Homo sapiens: one gene and its partners. The protein of the gene in region 7 purifies or fractionates together with the protein of the main gene of each other region. This does not show direct contact. Each region holds a gene or a part of one and is shown on either strand. Other genes may lie near its edges. The genes, in order: GPHN, HRNR, PRMT8, ELAVL2, TMBIM4, RPTN and OTUD4.

The links.
Region 1: the proteins of OTUD4 (region 7) and GPHN purify together in Homo sapiens (affinity purification with mass spectrometry; one large-scale study listed by BioGRID and IntAct). This does not show direct contact.
Region 2: the proteins of OTUD4 (region 7) and HRNR purify together in Homo sapiens (co-immunoprecipitation; one large-scale study listed by IntAct). This does not show direct contact.
Region 3: the proteins of OTUD4 (region 7) and PRMT8 purify together in Homo sapiens (co-immunoprecipitation; one large-scale study listed by IntAct). This does not show direct contact.
Region 4: the proteins of OTUD4 (region 7) and ELAVL2 purify together in Homo sapiens (affinity purification with western blotting; one study listed by BioGRID). This does not show direct contact.
Region 5: the proteins of OTUD4 (region 7) and TMBIM4 purify together in Homo sapiens (co-immunoprecipitation; one large-scale study listed by IntAct). This does not show direct contact.
Region 6: the proteins of OTUD4 (region 7) and RPTN purify together in Homo sapiens (affinity purification with mass spectrometry, with the first as the bait; one large-scale study listed by BioGRID). This does not show direct contact.

Annotation. Positions count from the first base shown.
Region 1 is NC_000014.9:67,106,147-67,109,646, reverse strand, and holds part of GPHN (gephyrin), read right to left. Parts: intron 1,274-3,500; exon of another isoform or gene 1,185-1,273; intron 1-1,184. UniProt on the Homo sapiens protein: Microtubule-associated protein involved in membrane protein-cytoskeleton interactions. It is thought to anchor the inhibitory glycine receptor (GLYR) to subsynaptic microtubules.
Region 2 is NC_000001.11:152,217,694-152,221,193, forward strand, and holds part of HRNR (hornerin), read right to left. Parts: coding exon 1-3,500. UniProt on the Homo sapiens protein: Component of the epidermal cornified cell envelopes.
Region 3 is NC_000012.12:3,585,203-3,588,702, reverse strand, and holds part of PRMT8 (protein arginine N-methyltransferase 8), read right to left. Parts: intron 1-3,500. UniProt on the Homo sapiens protein: S-adenosyl-L-methionine-dependent and membrane-associated arginine methyltransferase that can both catalyze the formation of omega-N monomethylarginine (MMA) and asymmetrical dimethylarginine (aDMA) in proteins such as NIFK, myelin basic protein, histone H4, H2A and H2A/H2B dimer.
Region 4 is NC_000009.12:23,763,741-23,767,240, forward strand, and holds part of ELAVL2 (ELAV-like protein 2), read right to left. Parts: intron 1,360-3,500; coding exon of another isoform or gene 1,269-1,359; intron 1-1,268.
Region 5 is NC_000012.12:66,167,197-66,171,403, forward strand, and holds the start of TMBIM4 (protein lifeguard 4), read right to left. Parts: upstream 2,801-4,207; 5' UTR 2,756-2,800; coding exon 2,659-2,755; intron 1-2,658.
Region 6 is NC_000001.11:152,153,095-152,156,228, reverse strand, and holds the end of RPTN (repetin), read left to right. Parts: coding exon 1-1,485; 3' UTR 1,486-2,634; downstream 2,635-3,134. UniProt on the Homo sapiens protein: Involved in the cornified cell envelope formation. Multifunctional epidermal matrix protein. Reversibly binds calcium.
Region 7 is NC_000004.12:145,170,590-145,174,089, forward strand, and holds part of OTUD4 (OTU domain-containing protein 4), read right to left. Parts: intron 1,132-3,500; coding exon 1,081-1,131; intron 1-1,080.

The DNA of each region.
Region 1 (3,500 bases), on a different chromosome or scaffold from region 7:
TATTGCCTTTGAAAATATTCTAAAACACATTAGCTCACCTATCAATTAATAATAGAGGTTGAGCAAATATAATTAAATCATTTAAAAATGATTCCAGTGTCTGTAATGACCTAGGTTAAACATTACTTTTGAAAATGAAAAACAAGATTTTCATTGTTTGTGCTCTCATATTGATGGTATAAGAGACAGAACCTTCCCTGCTAACTTCTTACAACATGAGGAAAAGCATTTTTCTGTAAGATTCATCTGATAGATTTGATCTGATAGAGAAGTGATCTGAAAGTCACTTGTCAGGGGCAATGATTTAGACTGGAGTTTGGAAAATGAATGCTTCAAATTCTCCCTAAGAAAAAATCCTGAGACAATATTAATCCCCCCTGCCAAAAGATTCCTTTCTAAAGATGTCTGCCTCATAAGTATAGTCACGTGCTGCATAAGGATAGTTTGCTCAATGTTGGACTGCATATATGATGGTGGTCCTATAAGATTACCATATTTTCTACTGTACTTTTTGTTTTGATAAACAAATACCATTATAATTGCTTACGTATTCAGTAATACTGTAATATGCTGTGCAGGTTTGTAGCCTCGGAGCTACAGGTCACACCATGTAGGCTAGGTGTGTAGTGGGCTACTCATGCAGGTTTGTGTAAGTACACTCTATGATGGTCGGACAACAAGAAAATTGCCCAACAACATATTTCTCAGAATATATCTTCATTAAGTAACTCATGACTCTATTTAAAATCTTAAGTCCCTACAATGTGAATATATTTACCACTACTGAACTATAAGCTTAAAAACTGTCAAGATGGTATATTTAATGTTATGTGTGTGTATGTTTTGTCATTGTTGTTATTTTAACCACCAAAATAAGACAAAGTAAAATAAACCACACACACACACACACACACACACACACACACACACACACCCCTTAGGGAATGGTTAAGAAAAAAAAATACCTTACTACTGAAAGTACAATCAAAGTAAAACAGGAAATTTATTACAAAAGTCTTAAAAATCTTCTCTCCATAATATTATTACTGTAAGCAATACTACCAATAACTAATATTTATTGAACCCACAATCTATGCTAGGTACAATGTTAAGTGCATTATATATTACAGAATATAAGCCTTACAAAGACAAAGATTTGTTTCATTTTCTGTTTGCCTCTCCAGATCACATCATCATTCTCTACTCTGTGCTGTGGTCCAGAAGCTGACCTCTATGGACTATTTTAACCAGTTTCCCACCACTTTGGCGTCTGGTGAGACTCAGCCAAAGGGAGGGGTCAGTAAGAGATGTAGAGGGTAGGAGAGAGACAGAAAAGTAGAGTTTTCATTCCCCTTGCTCTTTTCCTCCTGGGCTGCAGTTTGGTGATGGTTAGGGCATCTCTCCTACTGAGAGCAAGAGCTGCTGTTGGGCAGTCCTCTCCCACAGATATGAATCTTCCCAGGTTCAGGTACCATTGTCTTTCTTTGCTCCTTCAGACTAAGATGTGGTAAGGAAATCTCACTGTTGCTAGCTCCTGGGTGCTGCAGATTCCTTTATTGGTTTCCCTTAACTCCATCCAGACATTGGAGATAGTTTCTAATCTTCTTTAATCATCCTTTTTCCAGACATATTGCTCTGTTATGGCAAGGCTTAGAAAGTATGTTGCACACACTTTGCCAAGCTGAGCACCTACGCATCCCAGGCTGAGCTGATGTAGTCACTCATGTCCTAGGGAAACAGAGTGCTGATTGAGCCAAGATATCCTGACCTACAGGCCAAATAACTCTAGTACCCTGCTTCTCTGGAGCTAGACTATAGCCCCTTAGAGTCTGAGCTGCTGAGATACCCCCCTCTCTGGGGAGTTGAGTCATTTCTGTGTTGATCCTTGGCCCCCCCGGGGATCAAACCACAGCTGCGCTCTGCCATTCTAAGGTATCTGCTGCTTCTGCACCTGGCCTCAGAGTCTGAAGTGAGGACCTGCGTAGCCCCACCATCCAGGGGTCTAGGGTCACTACTACACAGTACCTTATCCACTGTGACCCGAGCTGCTGCTGAGCCCTACTGGCTCTGGTTCCTGAGCTGCGGCCATACCCTGCTCCCCTGGCCAAAACCTTTTTCTTTGGAGTTTGGTCAGTACTACACCCTACCCATGAGGTATAAAATCACAGGTACAACCAGGGCACCTGGGTCCAAGCTGCTAGGGGGTGCCTCAGTCATAAACCTTGGTTCTTTGGATAACCTACACCCAACTCTGCCACAGAGAGTGAACCTGAACCCCAAGAACCAGGTGCCACAATGGATTCACAAGACCCTGAGCCTTGGATCCTGGCTCCACAGTCACTCCAAGCACCATATTTTGAGCCCAGTGCCACTGTAGCTGCTTGGAGGGCATGTCAGACCTAACACCAAGAGGGATCCCTTCAGCTGATTCTCCCTATTGTGTGGAAAACAAGAAGAGGAGGACTCTAAAAGCCCTTGACACCAAGGATATTAACAGCCTATGCCACTACTACCACTGACACAAACTTCTATGGATTAGGCCACTGAGGTACTCACAGTTATTACTGACATTGAATGCAACTGAAAAAGCTGCAAGGAGACTACACCATTGCACCTGTCCAGAAAGTCACCATACCCTTTGCAACCAACACACTAAAGCCCAACTACAGGCGTCTCTACAAAACCACCCAGAAAGTCTGAAAGAAGCAAAAGTTCCACTAGGCACACAGATCAACATGGGGACACAAGAAACACAAAAAAGCAAGGAAATATGACACCACTAAAGGAATACATCTCTAGTAACAGACTCCAATGAAAAGGAAATCAATGAACTCCTGGAAAAGAAATTGCAAAATAATGATCTTAAGGAAACTCAATTAGATAAAACAAAAACAAAAACAAAAACAAAACCTAGCGATAATTCAACAAAATCAGCAAAACAATTCATAAGAATGATAAATTCAACAAAGATAGAGAAATCATAAAAAAGAACCAAACAGAAATCCTACAGCTGAATAATTCAAAAAATGAAATAAAAAATTACAATAGAGAGCTTCAATAGCAGTCTTGATAAAGCAGAAGAAAGAATCTTTGAACTGGAAGATAGGTTGTTTGAAATACCCAGCAAGAGAGAGAGACAGAGAGAAACAGAAGAATGAAAAAGAGTGAAGAAAGCTTGTAAGACTTATGGGACACCATACAAGAACAAATATTCATATTATTGGAGTTTCAGAAAAAAAGAAAGGAAAAGGCATAAGAAACTTATTTAATAAAATAATAGCTGAAAACTTCCCAAGTCTGGGGAAAGGTATGGATATCCAGGTCCAGGAATTCCAAAGGTCTCCAAATCAAGTCATATATAATGAAATCCACATTAGACTAACAGTAGATTTCTCTGCAGAAACCTTACAGGACAGGAAGAAAGGAGATAACATCTTCAAAGTGCTGAAATAAAAAAATTTCTAACTATGAATACTATATGCAGCAAAGCTATCCTTTGG
Region 2 (3,500 bases), on a different chromosome or scaffold from region 7:
TGTCCTTGGCTACAGAAGTGCCCTGAGCCACTACCATGCTGACTGTAAGCAGAGGAATGTCCTGAGCCAGACTCATGTTGACCAAAGACAGAAGAGTGACCCGAGCGAGACTCATATGGGCCACGGCTGGAAGAACGACCTGAGCCAGACCCATGTTGGCCGTGGCTGGAGGAGTGCCCCAAACCGGACCCATGTCGGCCGCGGCTAGGGGAATGGCCAGATCCAGACCCTTGTCGGCCGTGGCCCGAAGACTGACGGGAGCCAGACCCATGCTGACCATAGTGGGAAGACGAACCTGAGCTAGATCCGTGTCGTTCACCCCTAGATGACTGTCCTGATCTAGAGCCGTGTTGTCCGTAGCCAGAGGAGTGACCTGAGCCAGACCCATGCTGACTGTAACTAGAGGACTGCCCTGAGCTAGACTCGTGGTGACCAAAGCCAGAAGACTCGCCTAAGCCAGACCCATGTTGGCCACTGCTGGAAGACCGACCGGAGCCAGACCCATGTCGGCCGTAGCTGGGAGACTGCCTTGACCCAGACCCACGCTGGCCGTGGCCTGGAGACTGGCCAGATCCAGAGCCCTGTCGGCCATAGCCAGAAGACTGACTTGAGCCAGAGCCATGCTGACCGTGGCTGGAAGACTGACCTGAGCTAGCTCCATGTTGGCCACAGCTCGATGACTGTCCTGATGTAGAACCGTGTTGCCCATGGGTAGAGGAATGACCTGAGCTAGATCCATGTTGACCGTAGCCAGAGGACTGTCCTGAGCGAGACTCTCGGTGACCTAAGCCAGAAGAGTGACCGGAGCCAGACTCATATGGGCCACGGCTTGAAGACCACCCTGAGCCAGACCTATATGGGCCATAGCTGGAAGACTGCCCGGAACCAGACCCATGTCGGCCACGGCTAGGGCTAGGAGACTGGCCAGATCCAGACCCATGTTGGCCGTGGCCCAAAGACTGACGGGAGCCAGACCCATGCTGACCATAGCTGGAAGACGAACCTGAGCTAGATCCATGTTGTTCGCTCCTAGATGACTGTCCTGACCTAGAGCCGTGTTGTTCGTAGCTGGAGGAGTGACCTGAGCCAGATCCATGCTGAGTGTAACCAGAGGACTGCCCTGAGCTAGACTTGTGACCAAAGCCAGAAGACTGGCCTGAGCCAGACCCATGTCGGCCACTGCTGGAAGACCGACCGGAGCCAGACCCATGTCGGCCATAGCTGGGAGACTGCCCTGACCCAGACCCACGCTGGCCGTGGCCTGGAGACTGGCCAGATCCAGAGCCATGTCGGCCGCGGCCCGAAGCGTGATGGGAGGCAGACTCATGCTGACCATAGCTGGAAGATTGACCTGAGCTAGAGTCATGTTGGCCGGAGCTTGATGACTGCCCTGACGTAGATCCATGTCGTCCCTGGCTAGAGAAGTGACCTGAGGCAGAACCATGCTGACTATAGCCCTGTCCTGAGCCAGACTCGTGTTGCCCAAAACCAGAAGCCTGGCCTGAGCCAGACTCATAATGGCCACAGCTGGAAGAACAACTTGTGCCAGACCCGTGTTGGCCGTGGCTGGAGGAGTGCCCTGAACTGGACCCATGTCGGACACGGCTAGGAGAGTGGCCAGATCCAGACCCTTGTCGGCCGTGGCCCGAAGATTGATGGGAGCCCGACCCATGCTGACCATAGCTGGAAGACAAACCTGAGCTAGATCCGTGTTGTTCACTCCTAGATGACTGTCCTGACCTAGAGCCGTGTTTTCTGTAGCCGGAGGAGTGACTTGAGCCAGATCCATGCTGACTGTAACCAGAGGACTGCCCTGAGCCAGACTTGTGACCAAAGCCGGAAGACTGGCCTGAGACAGACCCATGTGGGCCATTGCTTGAAGACCAACCGGAGCCAGACCCATGTTGGCCGTAGCTGGAAGAGTGCCCAAAATCGGACCCATGTCGGCCGCGACTAGGAGACTGGCCAGATCCAGAGCCCTGTTGGCCATAGCGAGAAGACTGACTTGAGCCAGAGCCATGCTGACCGTGGCTGGAAGACTGACCTGAGGTAGCTCCATGTTGGCCACAGCTCGATGACTGTCCTGATGTAGAACCATGTTGCCCATGGGTAGAGGAATGACCCGAGCTAGATCCGTGTTGACCGTAGCCAGAGGACTGTCCTGAGCGAGACTCTTGGTGACCTAAGCCAGAAGAGTGACCGGAGCCAGACTCATATGGGCCACGGCTTGAAGACCTCCCTGAGCCATACCCATGTGGGCCATAGCTGGAAGACTGCCTGGAACCAGACTCATGTCGGCCACGGCTAGGGCTAGGAGACTGGCCAGATCCAGACCCATGTCGGCTGTGTCCCAAAGATTGACGGGAGCCAGACCCATGCTGACCATAGCTGGAAGATGAACCTGCACTAGATCCTTGTCGTTCACCCCTAGATGACTGTCCTGACCTAGAGCCGTGTTGTCCGTGGCCGGAGGAGTGACCTGAGCCAGATCCATGCTGAGTGTAACCAGAGGAATGCTCTGAGCTAGACTCGTGGTGACCAAAGCCAGAAGAGTAGCCTGAACCAGACACATATGGGCCACTGCTGGAAGATCGACCAAAGCCAGTCCCATGTTGGCCGGAGCTGGGAGACTGCCCTGACCCAGACCCACGCTGGCCGTGGCCTGGAGACTGGCCAGATCCAGAGCTGTGTTGGCCGCGGCCTGAAGAGTGACGGGAGGCAGACTCATGCTGACCATAGCTGGAAGACTGACGTGAGCTGGAGCCATGTTGGCCAGAGCTTGATGCCTGCCCTGACGTAGATCCATGTTGTCCCTGGCTAGAGGAGTGACCTGAGCCAGAACCATGCTTACTATAGCCAGAGGACTGTCCTGAGCCAGACTCATGTTGCCCAAAGCCAGAAGTCTGGCCTGAGCCAGACTCATAATGGCCACGGCTGTAAGAGTAACTTGAGCCAGACCCGTGTTGGCCGTGGCTGGAGGAGTGCCCCGAACCGGACCCATGTCGGACGTGGCTAGGAGACTGGCGAGATCCAGACCCTTGTCGGCCGTGGCCCAAAGACTGACGGGAACCAGACCCATGCTGACCATAGCTGGAAGACGAACCTGAGCTAGATCTGTGTCGTTCACCCCTAGATGACTGTCCTGACCTAGAGCCGTGTTGTCCGTAGCCAGAGGAGTGACCTGAGCCAGATCCATGCTGACTGTAACCAGAGGACTGCCCTGAGCTAGACTTGTGTTGACTAAAGCCAGAAGACTGGCCTGAGCCAGACCCATGTGTGTCATTGCTGGAAGACTGTCCGGAGCCAGAGCCGTGTTGGCCATAGTTGGGAGACTGCCCTGACCCAGACCCACATTGGCCGCGGCCTGAAGACTGATGGGAGTCGGAGTTTTGCTCACCATAGCTGGAAGACTGACCTGAGTAGGAGTTATGTTGGCCAGAAAAGTCTCTTTGAAAACTCAGTCTTCTGGATATGGATTCAGTCCCAGGTTTAAGACTTCC
Region 3 (3,500 bases), on a different chromosome or scaffold from region 7:
AGCATGACCAGTACTGCCTGCAGCATTCCTAGTGCAGTGCATTCATTCACCATTCCACAGACTTCCACTTAGGATGCCTGCCACAGGCCGGGTATGGCTGTAGAATTGGGGAACAGCAAACGGGATGAACACCACTTTGTCCCCTCCTCCCCCGATCATACAGCCTCAGTGAGAAGACATTCAGGCAAATAGTGAGAAGTAGGGTGGGCACTATGACCAAGGATGGGGCTTGGGAACACAGGGAGCTGAGGGTACAAATGGCAGGGACTGGCCTCTCACCAGAGTTTTCCTGGTGCTTTTGGAAAGGGAATGGAATCCTGCTTCCCATCTCACTGACCAATGGCTAAGTGGCTGGTCGTCCTTTCTGGGATATAATTTTTCTAGCTGTAAGTTTGGAATTATATTCTCTAGAGAATTCATAGGCCTTTTGGAGAATTGAGGACTATGCACCAAGAAGCTTCTTTAATGTGGGAAAATGACTCAATGTCACAGGATGTCAATGGCAGAAAGGAGCTGCCTGAGCCCAAGGCGCAGAAAGTAAACTTGCCCAAAGTCCTTTCCAATGTCTGATCTGCCTACCTTGCTGATACCTGAAAAAACCAGGGCTTGCACCCAGGCCTGCTTCTGCTGGGGCTCCTGCCCTTCCACCTGCTACCTGGCTTTCCTGGATTACACAGCAGCCCCAGGGGCCCCAGTTCCCACTTCTACCCCCACCCCACTGAGGATGTGTTGTGGTGGGGGGGGCACCGTGCCCACTGGCTGCCACAGCCTGGAACCCTGGCTGTCTGTGCCTATTTGTGACAGCTTCTGCCTGGAGCTGCAGAGACGTCAGAGTCATTAGAAGGGATCATTTTTCAGGCTGTGCGGTATGGGATGTGTTTCTAAGTGGCCCGCAGAGCGCGCTACCACTGGGCTGAGAACAGAAGACTCAGTTGGGGGTTGATGCAGAGGGACCACACACAGCAGGCTACACTTTGCATCAAGTTCAAAAACAGCTGAGACCAAACAATACCTTGTTTAGGCACACACATCCATGTGATAAAACTTTTCATAAATAGCAAGGGAATAAGGAACACAAAATTCAGGATAATGTTCATCTGGAGGCGATACGGGAGGTGGGATGGGGTGGGGCATCCAGGAAGATGCAGAGGTGTTGGCAGCATTTCAGTCATTGAGTCAGGGCATAGCTCGAATCAATAAGTGTAAGCAAATTAATGCAAATATGCATTAATTGATTTACATTTAATTATAATTATATTACAGTTATTACCATGTCTTTCTAGTCAATATTTATATTTTAGTTAAAAACAATTTATTTTTAATATTAACTAATGTATTTACCTTCTAATAGTAATACTAATAAATTTATTAGTATTTATTAATTTATTTTGTTAGTATTTATTAATTCATTCTAGTTACTATTTACATTCTAGTTAATAGTAATTAATTTATATTCTAGTTGCTGAGTTATGTGGTGAGTTCATGGATATTCATTATATTAATATATAATATAATTATATATAATTAATATATAAATTAGCAAAAAAAGTGAACCATGAATGGTCCAATAATGACATATGGCATGAGCCAAGAATTAGGATTAATCTAAGTCTGTGCATCTGAGATCCATAAAAACAGAAAGGGTTACTCGGTCAGTTGTCAGAATATAGATGGTCTGAGTATACCCCACTGCTAACCCACATGAACTGGGAAAGAAGTTTGCTACCTGCTAGAAACAGAGCCCCCACGCTGACACGCGAAGGTGGCTGAGAAAGCAACTCAACAAAGTATTCTCCCACCCCCATTGCTACCCATATAGGCATGTGCCAAGAAGAGGGATCTACGTCAGCCAGAAAGCAAAGAGTCTTGGTGAGGCCTGAGGGTATACCTGAGTGAGGAGATGGAATAGCCTTTCCAGAAGAAAGTCAACATTGGTCAAATTCTCAACCCTCTGGTTCAGGGCAGTCTTGCACAGAGGCAGTGGTCCTTAAGCTGGAGCATGCATCGCAATCACCTGGAGGTCTTGTTAAGACACAGACGGCTGGCCCCCACCCCCAGAGTTTCTGATTCAGGAGGTCCAGGGTGAGGCTCAAGAATTTGCAATTCTAACAATTTCCCAGGTGATACTGGTGTTACCCGTCCAGGAACCACACTTTGAGAACCACTTCCCCAAGGCATGACAAACTGGAGACTGTAGGACCTCCAAATGTCTTTCAGAACCTAAGTTTGTAGAATTCTGTGCAAAAGGGAGGAGGCATAACACTATAATTGCAAAAAGAGGAGTAGGCTCACAACTGGGTTTAGATCCTTGGTCTTTGAGCCACGTAGGACTGTGGTGGGGGTGTGACCAAAGACTAGGAAGGAAAGCCACTGGGTTAGAGCCTTCAACACTCAGGGCAAATCCTCGCCATCTTTCAGGCAGCCCAGAGCCGATGTCTTGATTCTGGATGTGAGCTTAATCCAGGCTCCTCCACATGGGACCATGAAGAATGTCATCCCTAACACCCCAGAGCCAGGGAGCCATCTCTAGACAGGGTCCAGCAGGCTGTCTGCTTGACTTTGGAGACTAGAAATATTAATAGATCATCTCAAGGAAAATAAAACTATGGCTGAGAGCTGCAGGGATAGAGCCTGGGGTTTGGAAACTTAGAACTTTTCCCAGAGCATCCTTGCCCATGGACTTTCTCATCAGCAGGGCAGGCTCTGGGTTAGACATCATCCTGGTGATGGAATAGGCAGAGCCAGCTCCTATGACTTCATCCTTAGCTTCCAATCACAGCCACTGTCCCCAAGAAGGCTCCTCCCCAGCTCCCTCACTACCCCTACTCTCACCATTGCTAGGCACAGTCTTCCCAATCCTTCAAGATCAAAGTAAAATCCACCTTCCCCCTCCTGGCTGCTCCTGCCCACTGGGAAGACATGTACTGCTCCTGTGAGGAGGGCAGCAGCTGATAATGACCCAGATCAGGGCAGGAAAGCACCAGCACTGCCTGGCTGACGGAGACCAAAAGTCCCAATCTTAGTAATCAGGAGGCACTGGTTCTGGGAAAAGCCTTTCTATGAAGAGATAAATCTGTCTCTTGCCCTCTCTTTCCATAGGTAAAAGAGAATCATTGAGACCAGCCTGGGCAATGAGGCAAGACCCCATCTCTACCAAAAAAAAAAAAAAATTAAAAAGTATCCAGGCATGGTGGCATGTGCCTGTAGTCCCAGCTACTTGGGTGGCTAAGGCAGGAGGATCGCTTGAGCCCAGGAGGTCAAGGCTGCAGTGAGCTATGATTGTGCCACTGCACTCCAGCCTGGGAGACAGAGTGAGACCTTGTCTCTGAGAAAAAAAAAAAAAAAAAAAAAAAAAAAGCATCATTTTCTTCATGGCTTCTGGAAGTAAAGAATCATGTCCTCGATTTCTGGTAGAACTCACCTTCCCACTCCCCCTACTAGACATACAACTACTCACCTCCTCACCCCCTGATGACATGCTCCCAATTCCCAGGAAGACT
Region 4 (3,500 bases), on a different chromosome or scaffold from region 7:
AGACTGAACAAGAATCAGTGCTGTCATGATAAAAAAACATGAGGCAAAATCCAGAATAGCTTTTGAAATATCCAACAACCTGTAACCCCTCTGTGACTTCATTTCCTTGTCAAAGAAGTGGGAATTTATTCTACAAGCTGCAAGCTGTTTCTCTACGTAAGCTAAGTTTTCTCAGGGAATACTTAAAGGGATGAAGGAAAATAAACCTTTGGAAATCTGTATTTAAAAATCTTAAATAATTCAAGATATGGGTTTTATTATAATTAGCAAATCTATTTGAATTTGAAAAGGGAAGTTTCAGATTTCCTAATTAAACATAACTGTTCTGGTTTGTAGAATATTAGCTGTGGGTCACTCTTTTCACAGCAAAAATTCTTCTGGGGTTAACCCTTGCCCAGCAGTTATGGAAACAATGAGCTACAAGATTAAAGTGGCCAAAGACACTTAAATCACTACTGAAAAGTTTGGATGGGTGTAGAAACTACAAGAGACCCGAATGGGAGATTCGGACTAAAGCTCATTGGGATAGCATTTGAAATACAAAGTGTTCATTGACTGAAATCAGCAAGATTTAGAAAGGACAACAAACACTCCTCACTTAATTGCACATTTATTTCCATGTTCAGGTGGCAAGAATGAGCTCCTAAGCCAACATTCAAGTGAACAGCTGCAGTAGGCTGTGTGCGCTGAAAATTACAGCATCTCTCTGCTATAGGACCATCTGCTCAGAATAAAATGATACTAATGTGCTATATTTTACAAATAATGCATATTCCATTGATAGGCTCAACACAACTGTTCACAGAATGCAAACTCTTTCAACAGTTACTGGGCAAATAATTTTCAGCCAGATTTACAATTTCAACTTTTTTTTTGGAGCATAAAGAATTGTAAATAACTTCAAAATTTAGTAACCAAAAAAATACATAGTAAACAGAATGTATAGAATTACGGTAACTTAGTATTCAGACCATACCAAAACTTTTTTTGTTTTTTTAAAAAAGCTTGTCACTCTTTTGAGTCTGCGCTAAATCCTAATTTAGATTGTAAAAAAATTACATACGAGAGCATGGTTCTGATGCTACATACACCACTACAGTTAAAATTGCAATGTGCTTTAAGTCCTAATGATGGCCATACCACAATAGGTTAAATGTAAGAATAATTAGTATGCCAAATGAAAGATTCAAGTGTTTGGTATGGCCTCAGCACTCCTCCAACATGCTAAAAAAAAGTAGCCTACAGAATTTAAGAAAAATCCCACAGACCCCGGTCCAAGGCTCTGCTGCCCACGAACCACTTCTAAGCAGAGAAGCCACATCACACAGTCTGACTGCCATGTTAGTTTGGAGTTGCCGTCTGCAATATGGACACAAAAAGTACCGTATGTTAGATGAGCAAGATAATGCAACAAATCAGTTTGTACAAAATTTACAGTGATTGTATTGATATTCCCAGCACGTCCATGCAGTGTGGCTTAATTGAAATTGAGGCAATTCCAATCTAATCTTTCCAAATTCATTTCAACATGTAGTTTTCTTGCACAAATATAAGCATTTTTAATTAAGAGCCTGATTTTAAAACAGTATTAACTAGTTATCTTGGCATCTATTCTGAAGAACTAATGTAAACCACACCTCAAAAATTTAAAAAATAAAGTAAAATAAAGCAAAATACTGCAGGCTGTCTTATCTCTTAAGGATGTGGGAGAAGGGAGGAAATGTGAATGAAATTTTATAGTGGGAAAAAGTCATCATGCAATTCCTAAGTGATTGGTTTGCATAAAAGCACTCTTTCCCCAAAATATCAGAAAGACATTAAGAGAAGCTATATTTGCCCACACTGTTACATTATACTATAAATGATCCTTAATCCTGGGACTTAAAATTAAAAGTGAATCGAAACCCTGTGAGGTTATTTTGCCACTACAGTCAAACGGTTTCTAACAGTTTCAATGAGAATTGCTCACATATACTAAGAGGCAGTAAACCAGCATCTTTCAATTGAAATAATTGGACCGATAAATAGGATTGTTTGGAGTAATGCTCGCATAGGATGTCAGCTTTGTCCCTGAACGAAATCAAGTGAACATTTTTTAATATGTAAATTGTAAACCCAGCACGATTTGAAATTAGTGCTGCTATGAGGCCTCCAATATAGTTAATGGGCCATTTACCACTTATTGAAACTTGCCCAAATACCAAACAGAGCCATGATATTGGCACAAAAGCCAAAGTTTACTTTTTTTGCCATATATGCAGATGCTTCAAATGGTCAATATAATCAGAAAACTTAGTTTCTAAAAATAGACAGTGAATAACAGAAGAGGTCCAAAAATGTCTTTTACTTATTGATAATTATAAAAATTTTATCCTGAGAGGCAATCCTGGCTGTGATTTACTCTTGATATTAGCAATGCCGCCAGTAACGATGGATTCCACTTTCTGGCATCTATCAAAAAGGATTAACATACTTTTTTACAGGAAGCCATGAAAATATTTTACTCTTCTTCCGTTCTCCCACTGTAACAAGAGATTTTGGTCTGACCCTATGTTATTTTTCAAAAAACTACTTATAGTTTAACTGAACCTGTGAAAAAGTGCTTTACACCCATGAAAGATTTTTCATAAGAACCCAACTGTAGTTAAGACTACATGAGCAGGACCACACCCAGCAGGGTAAAGCAGGCATAAATGTATGTCCTGAATACCTTCAGGAGTTCAATCTAAACATTGCTCACTACATAAAACAGATTTTAATTTAACTGCCTCAGTCCCTTCTATTTCATAGGAGGTGGACACTAATGAGCTAATCTATTGACACCCCTCTTTCTGAAAGCCCCAGGGAGGTGAACAATCACTTTATTGCACCAACTAGATAGGAAGGCTGTGTATGGAAAATGATTCTACTGCACTTTTACATTTCAAGCACCCCAGACAGTCTTCTCCGCTTGAGGCAGACACATACCTTTATGGGAAGTTATAAATAAGTTGCTCACATGGCCCTTACCTTTATGCTGGCCAACAATTCAGTTACTAAAAATGTAAAGCTACTTCCCCTTCACTTAAGGACAGGCAATTCTGCTCTACTCAATCTACCACAGACAACTGGGCTGTGTACTATTTATAGATTCCACTGGCTCTGAAACTCTTCGGAAAGAAAAAAAAGGCCATATTCCAGTGAAACAGAGCCATTAATTTTAAGGCTTAAAAAAATAATGTTTCAATATATATTCTCCTCTTAATTTAGACATCACTTGTGCCAATTCAGACTGCTTTTCCTCCTGTTATTATCCAAGTAATAATTTACGAAAAGGCACTTTAGCATAGATGAATCTAGAATATTCTAAACTTTCACTGGGCTCCAAGGTAAAATGGCTGTTACTATGGTGAAAGCGTAGGTTTTATTGGGAAATAGAAGATTGTCTCTACTTTTATACACACAGGTACTTCCAAAAAGCCATAAAGACTTCTAAACTTTTTATTTAAATAATCCTTTAT
Region 5 (4,207 bases), on a different chromosome or scaffold from region 7:
CATTTGTCAAACTCATAGAATATACAACACTAAGAGCGAACCTTAACGTAAACCTTGGTCTTGGGTGATAATGAGGTGTCCAGTCTAGGTTCACTGATTGTAACAAACATACCACTCTGGTACAGAACGTTATTAGTGCAAGAGGCTTGGGGAAAAGCAGAAAGGGTATATAAGAACTCTGTTCTTTCTGCTAAATTTTGCTATGAACCTAAAATTGCTTTTAAAAAATTAATTGGGCAAAGGACTTGAATAACATTTCTCCAAGGAAAATGTATAAATGCCCCACACGCATACTTTTAAAATGTGCAACATCATTAAATCATTAGAGAAATGCAAATCAAAACCAAAAGGACATACCACCTCACACTCATTTGATGGCTATTTTCATTTTAAAAAGAAAGAAAAGAACGGAATGTGTTGGCAAGGATGTAGAAAAAGGTGAACCCTTGTGCACTGTTGCTGAGAATGTAAAATGATGTAGCCCCTATCAAAAACAGTATGGCCGTTCCTTAAATAATTAAAAATAGAACTACCACACAATCCAGCAATTCCACTTCTGGGTATATATTCAAAAGAATTAAAGCACGGTCTTGAAGAGGTATGTGCACACCTATATTCATGACAGCACTATTCAAAGTAGTCAAGAGGTAGAAGCAACACAAATGTCCATCAATGGATGAATAAACAAAATTTGGTATATACATACAAAGTACTACTACTGTCTTAAAAAGGAAATTCTGCAGCCAGGTGCAGTGGCTCATGCCTGTAATCCCAGGACTTTGGGAGGCTGAGGTGGGAGGATCGCTTGAGTCCAGGAGTTCAAGATCGGATGGGGCAACATGGAGAAACCCGTCTCTACCAAAAGTACAAAAAAATTAGCCAGGCCTGGTGACCTGCATTTGTAATCCCAACTACTCGAGAGGCTGAGGCGGGAGGATCACCTGAGCCCAGAAGGTAGAGGCTGCAGTGAGCAGTGATCTCACCACTGCACTCCAGCCTCGGTGGCAAAGCGAGACCCTGTCTCAAAAAAAAAAAAAAAGGAAATTCTGACATATGCCACAACATGGATGTATTTGAAGACATTATGCTAATTGAAAAAAGCCAACCACAAAAAAACAAATACTGATTGTATCTAGAGTAGCCAAATTCACAGAGAGAGAAAGTGAAATGGTGGTTCCAGGGACTGGGGGAAGGAAGGAATGGGGAGTTAATAGGTATAGAGTTTCAGTTTTGCAAGATTAAAAAGTTCTGGATATTGGATGGTATATAAGTTTAGTCTAAAGCTATGCCTTTAGATATTTTAAGTTCAGCCTAGGGGTTCTCGGTATATAGTGAACTATAACCTAGTAAACAGGCTGTAACCTACGCTTGAACCAATCACTGAGTTTCAGCCAAAGATGGCCACGTGTTCAAACCATGTTCAAACGGGCAAAAACCAAGCTGTAACCAATCAACTCTTTCTGTACCTCACTTCTATTTTCTGTACCTCACTTTACTTTCTCTCTCCATAAATTTTCTCCCACCAAGCGGCAGGACTCATCACTCTGAACCTTATTCTGGTTCCGGGACCTGCCCAATTCGCAAATCATTCTGTGCTCAAACTCCGTTAGATTTAATGTGTCTAAAGTTTTTCTTTTAACAGTGCACAACCATGTGAATAACTTAACACTACTGAACTATACACTTAAAAATAGTTAAGACGGTAAATTTTATGTTACCTGTATTTTACCACAATTAATTTTTTTTAAAAAAAAGCTGAGTTCACTGGCCAAAATAATTTCAAAATTCAATTCCAAAAATATAAATGCTAGGCACCAAGATTCTTGGTGCATCAGAACTATCTTCATCTTTCCTTTTCCAGAACAAGTTCTAGGCACTAAGATTCTTAGCACATCAGAACTATCTTCATCTTTCCTTTTCCAGAACAAGTTCCAGCTGCCTAAACAGGCTGAAAGTCTGGGGCTGTTTCGGCGATCAAATGACCAAACTAGAGCAGGCAATGGCTTCCACGTAGATGAAGCTGAGCATTTTAAATTCAAAAATTTCTGCCCATTGGCTACTACGTAATAACTTAAAACACAATTTAGACTGACTTAGGAAGCTTCTGTGTTGAGCAACTTCCTCAATAATCCTCAAAGACCTGTTGCATTCTGGGCCCTGCGGAGAGGAAATAGTGCCGTCAGGGAGCTTCCAGCCTAGCACAGGACGGTAAATATAAGCCTGTAACGCGAAACCCCACAGAACAAAAACATCAGGCCGTGGATTCCACTCGTGTGTACGTCAGTCACAGTGATCAACCGACTCATTTCCACGACGTTTCTTTTCACTTCAAGATGCCAAATTCAGGCTGCGGCGGTTTCCATCTGTCCCTTCCTACACCGCGGCGCCCGCTGGGGAGCCGGGGCGCACACAGGACAGCCGCAAGCCTTCTGGGCCTGGCGCCCTCCCACACCCGCTAGGAGGGGAGGAAGCGCCTCCCCGACTCCCTGAGGAGGGCGCCAGTCCTCTGGTACCCGGAGAAGGAGGGCCGGGAGCTCAGTGAGCACTCCCTGTGAGTCCCAGGAGATGGCCGCTCTCCCTCGGAAGCCGGAAGTCGGCTTCTAGAGGCCGAGCAGTGCAGACAAGCGGCTGGGAGGCACTGGAGAGGGGACAACGTACCCATTCGGATGTGCACGGTGGCGGAGGCCACGCTGCTGCCATAGTTGAAGTCGTCCTCGATCGAGGAGCGAGGGTACCGGGGGTCGGGGTCAGCCATGATGGCAACAGCACCCCTACCGGTCCCGGTCCACTAACCGCAACCGCCTCCTCCCCACTTCCGCGAGGAAGAGCCCAGCCCCAGCAAGCCGTGCGGCGTCGGCGGGCGAACACCGAGCGAGTCGATTTTCTCGCTTCAAAAATTCCAGCTGGGCGGAGAAAGCGGGGATGGCTCCGAGTTAGAATGGAAGAGAAAACGGTTTACATTCCCGGCGTCATCTGAAGTGAAACTTTTCTCAACACACTTTTTTTTTTTTTTTTGAGATGGAGTTTCACTCTTGTTGCCCAGGCTGGAGTGCAATGGCACGATCTCGGCTCACCGCAACCTCCGCCTCCCGGGTTCAAGCGGTTCTCCTGCCTCAGCCTCCCGAATAGCTGAGATTACAGGCGCCTGCCACCACGCCAGGCTAATTTTTTTATATTTTTAGCAGAGACGAGGTTTCACCATGTTAGCCAGGATGGTCTCGATCTGCTGACCTCGTGATCCGCCCGCCTCGGCCTCCCAAAGTGCTGAGATTACAGGCGTGAGCCACCGCGCCCAGCCTGAACACACTTTAAGTCCTTTCACCTTGGAGAGTTGCTAAAGTGATAGAACCCATGTCCCAGTCACCCATCCACTCAACAAATACCCATCTCATTCATCCACTTTTTCAATAATCACACCGAGGATGCATTTTTACTTCTATTATTTTAAAATAATAATAATACCTACATTTATTGAGCACTTTCTATAAACCAGGCTTTCTGAATGAAGTAATATTTAATCCTGAAAGGCAAGTAGGAGCCAACCAGAGAAAGAGCAGTGATGTAGGCTGGGCCTCAAGGGACCAACGTCTGCAAAGAGGGAGACGGTGAAGCTCAGCTGGTGTAGGGGACAGGTGGCAAAGAATGAGGCTGGATAGATAAACAAAGGCCAGATCATCCTAGGCCAGAAGTAGAATACATTGAAGAGGGCCATTACCAAAGGCAGAGAAAAGGGGATAAAGTTGTATTACTGTAAGAGAGAGATGATGGTGGCAAATACAATGGATTAGAGTGAATATTCATGATATTGTTGTCATTCCAATATAAAGAGGTGTAGACATACCCAGAGTAGTGTCATCCTAGGGTCCCTTGGAATTGTTTTGATGAGTTTACTCTGATCTACCCACATTGCCCAGTCCTCACCTTAACCACAACACCCGAACACTTAGCAAGTGGAATTCAGAACAGTTGTGGAACAGTCTATTCTAAACTAAATCCTTAAACTTGATGTTCTCAGAAGCCTTTGCCAAAAGAACTAACGTCACTTCCACAATGACAAGAAAAACAAAACAAAACAAAAAAACACTTTATCTTTTATGATTTTACAAACATTTTACAAGCATATCATTTTAATTTGTTTTTGTTGGTTTGTTTTGAGATAGAGTCTCAGTCTGTCACCCAGGCTGGAGTGCGGTGGCTCTATCTCGGC
Region 6 (3,134 bases), on a different chromosome or scaffold from region 7:
CAGAGTTCCCACTACGGTCAGACGGACAGACAAGACCAGAGTTATCATTATGGTCAGACAGACAGACAAGGCCAGAGTTCCCACTACAGTCAGACGGACAGACAAGGCCAGAGTTCCCACTACAGTCAGCCAGACAGACAAGGTCAGAGTTCCCACTATGGTCAAATGGACAGAAAAGGCCAGTGTTATCATTATGATCAGACAAACAGACAAGGCCAGGGTTCCCACTACAGTCAACCAAACAGACAAGGTCAGAGTTCCCACTATGGTCAGCCAGACACACAAGATCAGAGTTCTCACTATGGTCAGACAGACAGACAAGACCAAAGTTCTCACTATGGTCAGACAGAGAGACAAGGCCAGAGTTCCCACTACAGTCAGATGGACCGACAAGGCCAGGGTTCTCACTACGGTCAGACAGACAGACAAGGCCAGAGTTCCCACTATGGTCAGCCAGACAGACAAGGCCAGAATTCCCACTATGGTCAGACAGACAGACAAGGCCAGAGTTCCCACTATGGTCAGACAGACAGACAAGGCCAGAGTTCCCACTACAGTCAGCCAGACAAACAAGGCCAGAGTTCCCACTATGGTAAGATAGACAGACAAGACCAGAGTTATCATTATGGTCAGCCAGACGGACAAGGCCAAAGTTCCCACTATGGTCAGACAGACAGACAAGGCCAGAGTTTCCACTATGGTCAGCCAGACAGACAAGGCCAGAGTTCCCACTACAGTCAGATGGACAGACAAGGCCAGAGTTCCCACTATGGTCAGACAGACAGACAAGGCCAGAGTTCCCACTACGGTCAGACAGACAGACAAGGCCAGAGCTATCATTATGGTCAGACAGACAGACAAGGCCAGAGTTCCCACTATATTCAATCACAGACTGGGGAAATACAAGGGCAAAATAAGTACTTCCAAGGGACTGAAGGAACAAGAAAAGCCTCTTATGTTGAACAATCAGGAAGATCAGGGAGGCTAAGTCAACAGACTCCAGGACAGGAAGGGTACCAAAACCAGGGACAGGGATTCCAGTCTAGGGACTCACAGCAGAACGGCCACCAGGTATGGGAGCCTGAAGAGGATAGCCAACATCACCAACACAAACTCTTAGCACAAATCCAACAAGAAAGACCACTTTGTCACAAAGGGAGAGACTGGCAATCATGCAGTAGTGAGCAGGGCCACAGACAGGCCCAGACCAGGCAGAGTCATGGTGAGGGGCTGAGCCACTGGGCAGAGGAAGAGCAGGGCCATCAAACTTGGGATAGACACAGCCATGAGAGTCAGGAAGGTCCATGTGGGACACAGGACAGGCGAACCCATAAAGATGAGCAGAACCATCAGAGACGAGACAGACAAACCCATGAACATGAGCAGAGCCATCAGAGACGAGACAGGCAAACCCATGAAGACAAGCAGAACCGTCAGAGACGAGACAGGCAAACCCATGAAGACGAGCAGAACCATCAGAGATGAGACAGGCAAACTCATGAAGAGGATCAAAACCATCAGCAACAACATAATAGACAAAACTATGAGGAGAAAGAGAGGTATCAAGGATCTCAGAATCAAAAATCCCAAGTGACCCACAGAAGCTGTCCTAACAGAGAAAAATTCCACATGAAAGAGGATGACCAGAGCCAAGGCTCACAGAAAAGACACACTGAACCATCCTTCTATCCAACCCAGAGCAGTGGGAGGCCCCAAACCAGAGAACAGCGTGGTCACCCTGCCAAGGGAGCTACTGTTCCCAACCCCCCCTATGACTATGTGCAAGAGCAGAAATCCTACCCATACTAGGCTATGTGAGCACCAGAGGTAAAGCAACACAAAGCCAAAAAAGAAACCTATATGTCGAGTTCACCTTTAATTCGATTTAAGAGATTGAGAATGTATTTCTTCCCTCTATCCTCTGCTGTATCTCCCTGCAAGGATGTTTTTGAGTACTAGCATTCACGTAAGGGCTTTTGGTTCTTTGAGCAGCAATTCTAGGGTTTTCTGATTCAGTGAAATCTAGGTGGTAAATTGGGTGAAATAATCATATCTTAATGTTGATCAGTTTGGGTATTTAAATCATTTCCTGCTTTGCCCTCTGTGTAGATGAGACCTGGTTGAATCATTGAAAGGTAGAACACTTCTCCCTAAAGTTCAGAAACAGAAAAGATATTCTGAAGATTTACATTACATCCAAGGATTATACTACATCTCCACTCCTCAAGGAACCCTAGATTTGGTGAGCTTTGGCTCCTGTGGATAAAACATCAGGAATTTCAAGCCTCATAGTCTAGACTAGAATGAAACTCAGTTCAAGGCTGCTACAAGAGCCGAGAACATAGAGTGCATCTCTGATGTTTACTACATCTCCCATGCCAGGCTCTTATTCCACACCAGAGGGACTGTCCATTAGTGCCTATCACTAGAGCTGAATGGACCCATTCCAATTCAATACCTTTCTAGTTTCTGATTATATAAAATAAAGAGAAAGTATATGTCATATGTTTGCAAATTCCAGGGGATCAAGACTATTGATTCATAGCTCCTAAGACCTGAAAACTCTTCTCAAGAAAATCTATGTGCAGATTATGAATTGTATTAAAATATCTAATAAATAATTGATGAGCAATAACTGTCATGACTCCTTTCTTCACTGTGGGGTTGTACTATTTTCACTTTTGAGCCATTTTCCAAAAATAACACCTTATTTCTTGACTTCTAAAATGTCTTTGTTCCCTGAGTTCCTGGGCACTGAAAAAAAATAAGAATCAATACAAAACAAATAATAAAGAGTCTAAATGAAACTTATCTAAATATAATTTTCAGCTCCTCCTCCCTCTACTGAGTCATATTTTACCTTTACCACTCCCTCACCACCACATTCAAATTGTCATTGAGTCTTCCCAACTCTACATCCCCATAACTTTTGAATCTCTTCTCACGTCTCCATCTCCACTGCCTTAATGGCCCTTCTCCTCAGTGGCTCCCCAGTGACTTGAGAAAAAAATTTACATCCCTCAGTGTGGCACATAGGCCTCACTATCTGATCAGATGACCTACCCAGCCTACTCACATGACAGGCCCCTCCCAGGAGCATCCAATGCTCCAGCCACACCAAGGACTTGGCCTTT
Region 7 (3,500 bases):
TTTCCTATGATAGGGAAACTTTTTTGTTATCTACATTATCTCTGCATCCCCAGGGTGACTAGGAATTCTTGGCCCATAACAAGCACTCAAATTAGTGTTAGGCAACCAAATGGATACATCAGTCATCGATCAAACACCCTTGGTTCCTACATTACATTCCCTTTACTCCTTAACTCTTCTTAGCTTTTTTCTTTGCCAATGTTATTTTTACCTTAACATTCTAAATGGCATTCCAAGATACTTGGATTTTTACAGTGAGAACGTTAGTTTTGTAAACAGAAAAATTAAGAAAAATCCTTTTAACATAAACATGACTGAAAAAGTATAGCAGCAGGAGTTGGTGAGTAAGTGCTATCCTTTTCTGTCTCAACAGTCTCTTCCCTCTTCACGAGATGATCATGGAAATAGGAACCTGCATGAAAGAACTCTGCCTTCTCAGTTGCCTAGGAAGAAAAACTCTGCAGGCCAGGTGTGGTGGCTCACACCTGTAATCCCAGCACTTTGGGAGGCTGAGGCAGGCGGATCACGAGGTCGAGAGATCGAGACCATCCTGGCCAATATGGTGAAACCCCATCTCTACTAAAAATAAAAAAATTAGCTGGACATGGTGGTGCACGCCTGTAGTCCCAGATACTCGGGAGACAAATCGCTTGAACTCGGGAGGCGGAGGCTGCAGTGAGCCGAGATCATGCCATGCACTCCAGCCTGGCAATGGAGTTAAATTCCACCTCAAAAAAAAAAAAAAAGAAATCAAACTTCACCCTGTCCAAGTTCCATACACACACCAACGTAGCATTCTGAAAATCATCACCCCAGTATTATTTCAGATTTTTATACTACATTTACATGCCATTATAGCCAAGATAAAATATCACAACTCTGCCTTAGTGAGGCAACCTCTAACATATAGCTCCAACTTAAGTGCTGCATAAAATGTGTAGGAAACGTTTATAAGGAAATAGGATACACCGTCACTGCAACTCCTCTATACACTGTAATAGTAATCTTCTATTTTAATGAATTTTAAATACATTATTTGGATATATAAAAATAGAAATATACTAGAAGACTGTGACATACCTGTGGATTTTCCAAACGCTTTAAATATTCTTCAAATGATCCTTCTATAAACTGCAAAAAATAAATCTATTAGAAATGTCATCTAACATATATGCCAAAACAGTTAACCGCTTCGCTGTGTAAACATTCACTGTGAATTACTGAGTTTGTACATAAACCTAAAATACCTCAGTATTATTTAAAAATATGTACATAATCTAATTATGAAAACATATAGCAATCATTAAAGACTATAAACATACAAAAGAATTTAAAGAAGGAAATTCTGTCAGGAAAGGTTTCCTGAAAGAAGAGTGACTCAAGATGAATGCTGGACAGGATCTGGATGGCAACAGGCAGCTGATACTCTACAGAGAGGGCCAATGTGGCGTGAGGAGGAAGAGGAACACTGTGTTGGGAAGACAAGCAATCTGGCCAGCTGGAGCAGGACAACCTGTTGTGGAACTGAGTGGGAGAAGAACCCAAAGGGGGGCCTGTTTACAGAGGGCCTTGAGCCCAGGCAGGACTTGAAGGCTAGATGAGAAAGGCCATTCAAGGCCACTTCAGGTGACATTCTGAACTGAGAAATTATATGATGAAAGCAGTGCTTTAACTTGGTAGTGACCAGTGTGTAGAAGGGAATAAAACAAAGACTGACTTACAAGCTAAGAAATAGTATAGCTTAATAATACAGATAAGAGTACTCATTGTCTCTCAAGTGATACTAGAAAGAGCGATGAGAACTAGTAAGGCGAAAAATATTTTGAAGCATCAACAAAATTTTTCTAATACAGCTTGCTTCATCGCTTCATTGTTACTTTGACATAAAAACAGTTTATTCAAGCTGTGTAATAACACAACCTTTTTTATGTTTCTTTAATAGCAATCGCACTCATTTGAGAAATCTCTAAAAGTCATTTGTTGAACCACCAAATTCAATTGCGTTTAAATTACAGTCCCAGTTGATTTAGCAGAGATATACTTAAAGACATTAAAGTATACTCCCTTGTCTATAAAATCTTTTAAGCACCCTTGGATTTTAAGATTGAGATTCTTTCATAGATTATATAATGTCAAATTGCCAAAAATATCTTAAATTTCGAAAGATATTTATAATAAAAGAGCCATATATATTAAAGAGCCCACCAATAAAGGGCTACTGTTCTGTATTAGATGATTATAGGTCTAAGGAAAAAAAAAACACAGAACCATTTAAAGTTACTAGAGACTGCAGAATTCTGACACAAGCCTGCATCCTCTCTGAGAGTCTCCTTTCTGAGCAGAAAGCGTCCACCTATGCCATGGCTGAACAATGTCAGTAACAAGGCATAATACTTTCTACAACATCTCTTTCCAATTCTGGACAACTGAAACTGCTTGAAGGTTCATAAAAGGAAAGTGAAACTTTTCCCCATGGAACTTTCAACCTCTGATCATACCTCATAAAATTATATGGACTAAGGCCAGGCACGGTGGCTCACGCCTGTAATCCCAGCACTTTGGGAGGCCGGGGCAGGCAGAGCATGAGGTCAGGAGATCGAGACCATCCTAGCTAACATGGTGAAACCCCATCTCTACTAAAAATACAAAAAATTAGCCTGGCGTGATGGTGCCAGGCACCTGTAGACCCAGCTACACTGGAGGCTGAGGCAGGAGAATGGCATGAACCCGGGAGGCGGAGCTTGCAGTGAGCCAAGATGGCGCCACTGCACTCCAGCCTGGGCGACAGAGCGAGACTCTGTCTCAAAAAAAAAAAATTATATGGACTAAAAAAAATATATGCAAAACACTTAATGCCTGGCATATAGTAAGCACCTCAACCAATGTTAGCAATGTCCATTATTATCAACACAGTTTTACCCTCTGGGGCCAATGATTAATAAGAATTAATTTAAAGACCATTCCACCTCCCCACTTCCCTTCTCTACCACACCTCTGCACTCTCTTATCTAGCCTCTGCGTTACCAGGTTTTTTTAATAAAACAAGGTTTCAAGCCTATCATTTGCAAAGTATTATATCAACATTCTCTACCAGTCAACTGGGGGAAATAACACCCAAAGTTGTCAGATTACATAATTCTAGGTCTTAAAACCAGTAAGTAATAAATCCTGTAAGACTTTGAATGTAAAATGAAAACAGGTCACTGTGGCATCTTATTTCACATACTACTGAGAAAATTATATTAAGCTGTTATACAACATTTTATTAACTATTAATCACTACTTACATAATTATAATGTTCTGACATGTGAGTTCACACTGAACCCTGAAAATTAAAAACCTATGAATGCCTTCTGATAAAATTAAGGGTTCAGCATTACTTACACTCAGCGTATTTTTTACACTGCAAGTCTGAATTTTTTTTTTTTTTTTTTTGAGACAGAGTCTCACTCTGTCACCCAGGCTGTGGTGCAGCGGCGCAACTCGGCTCACTGCAACC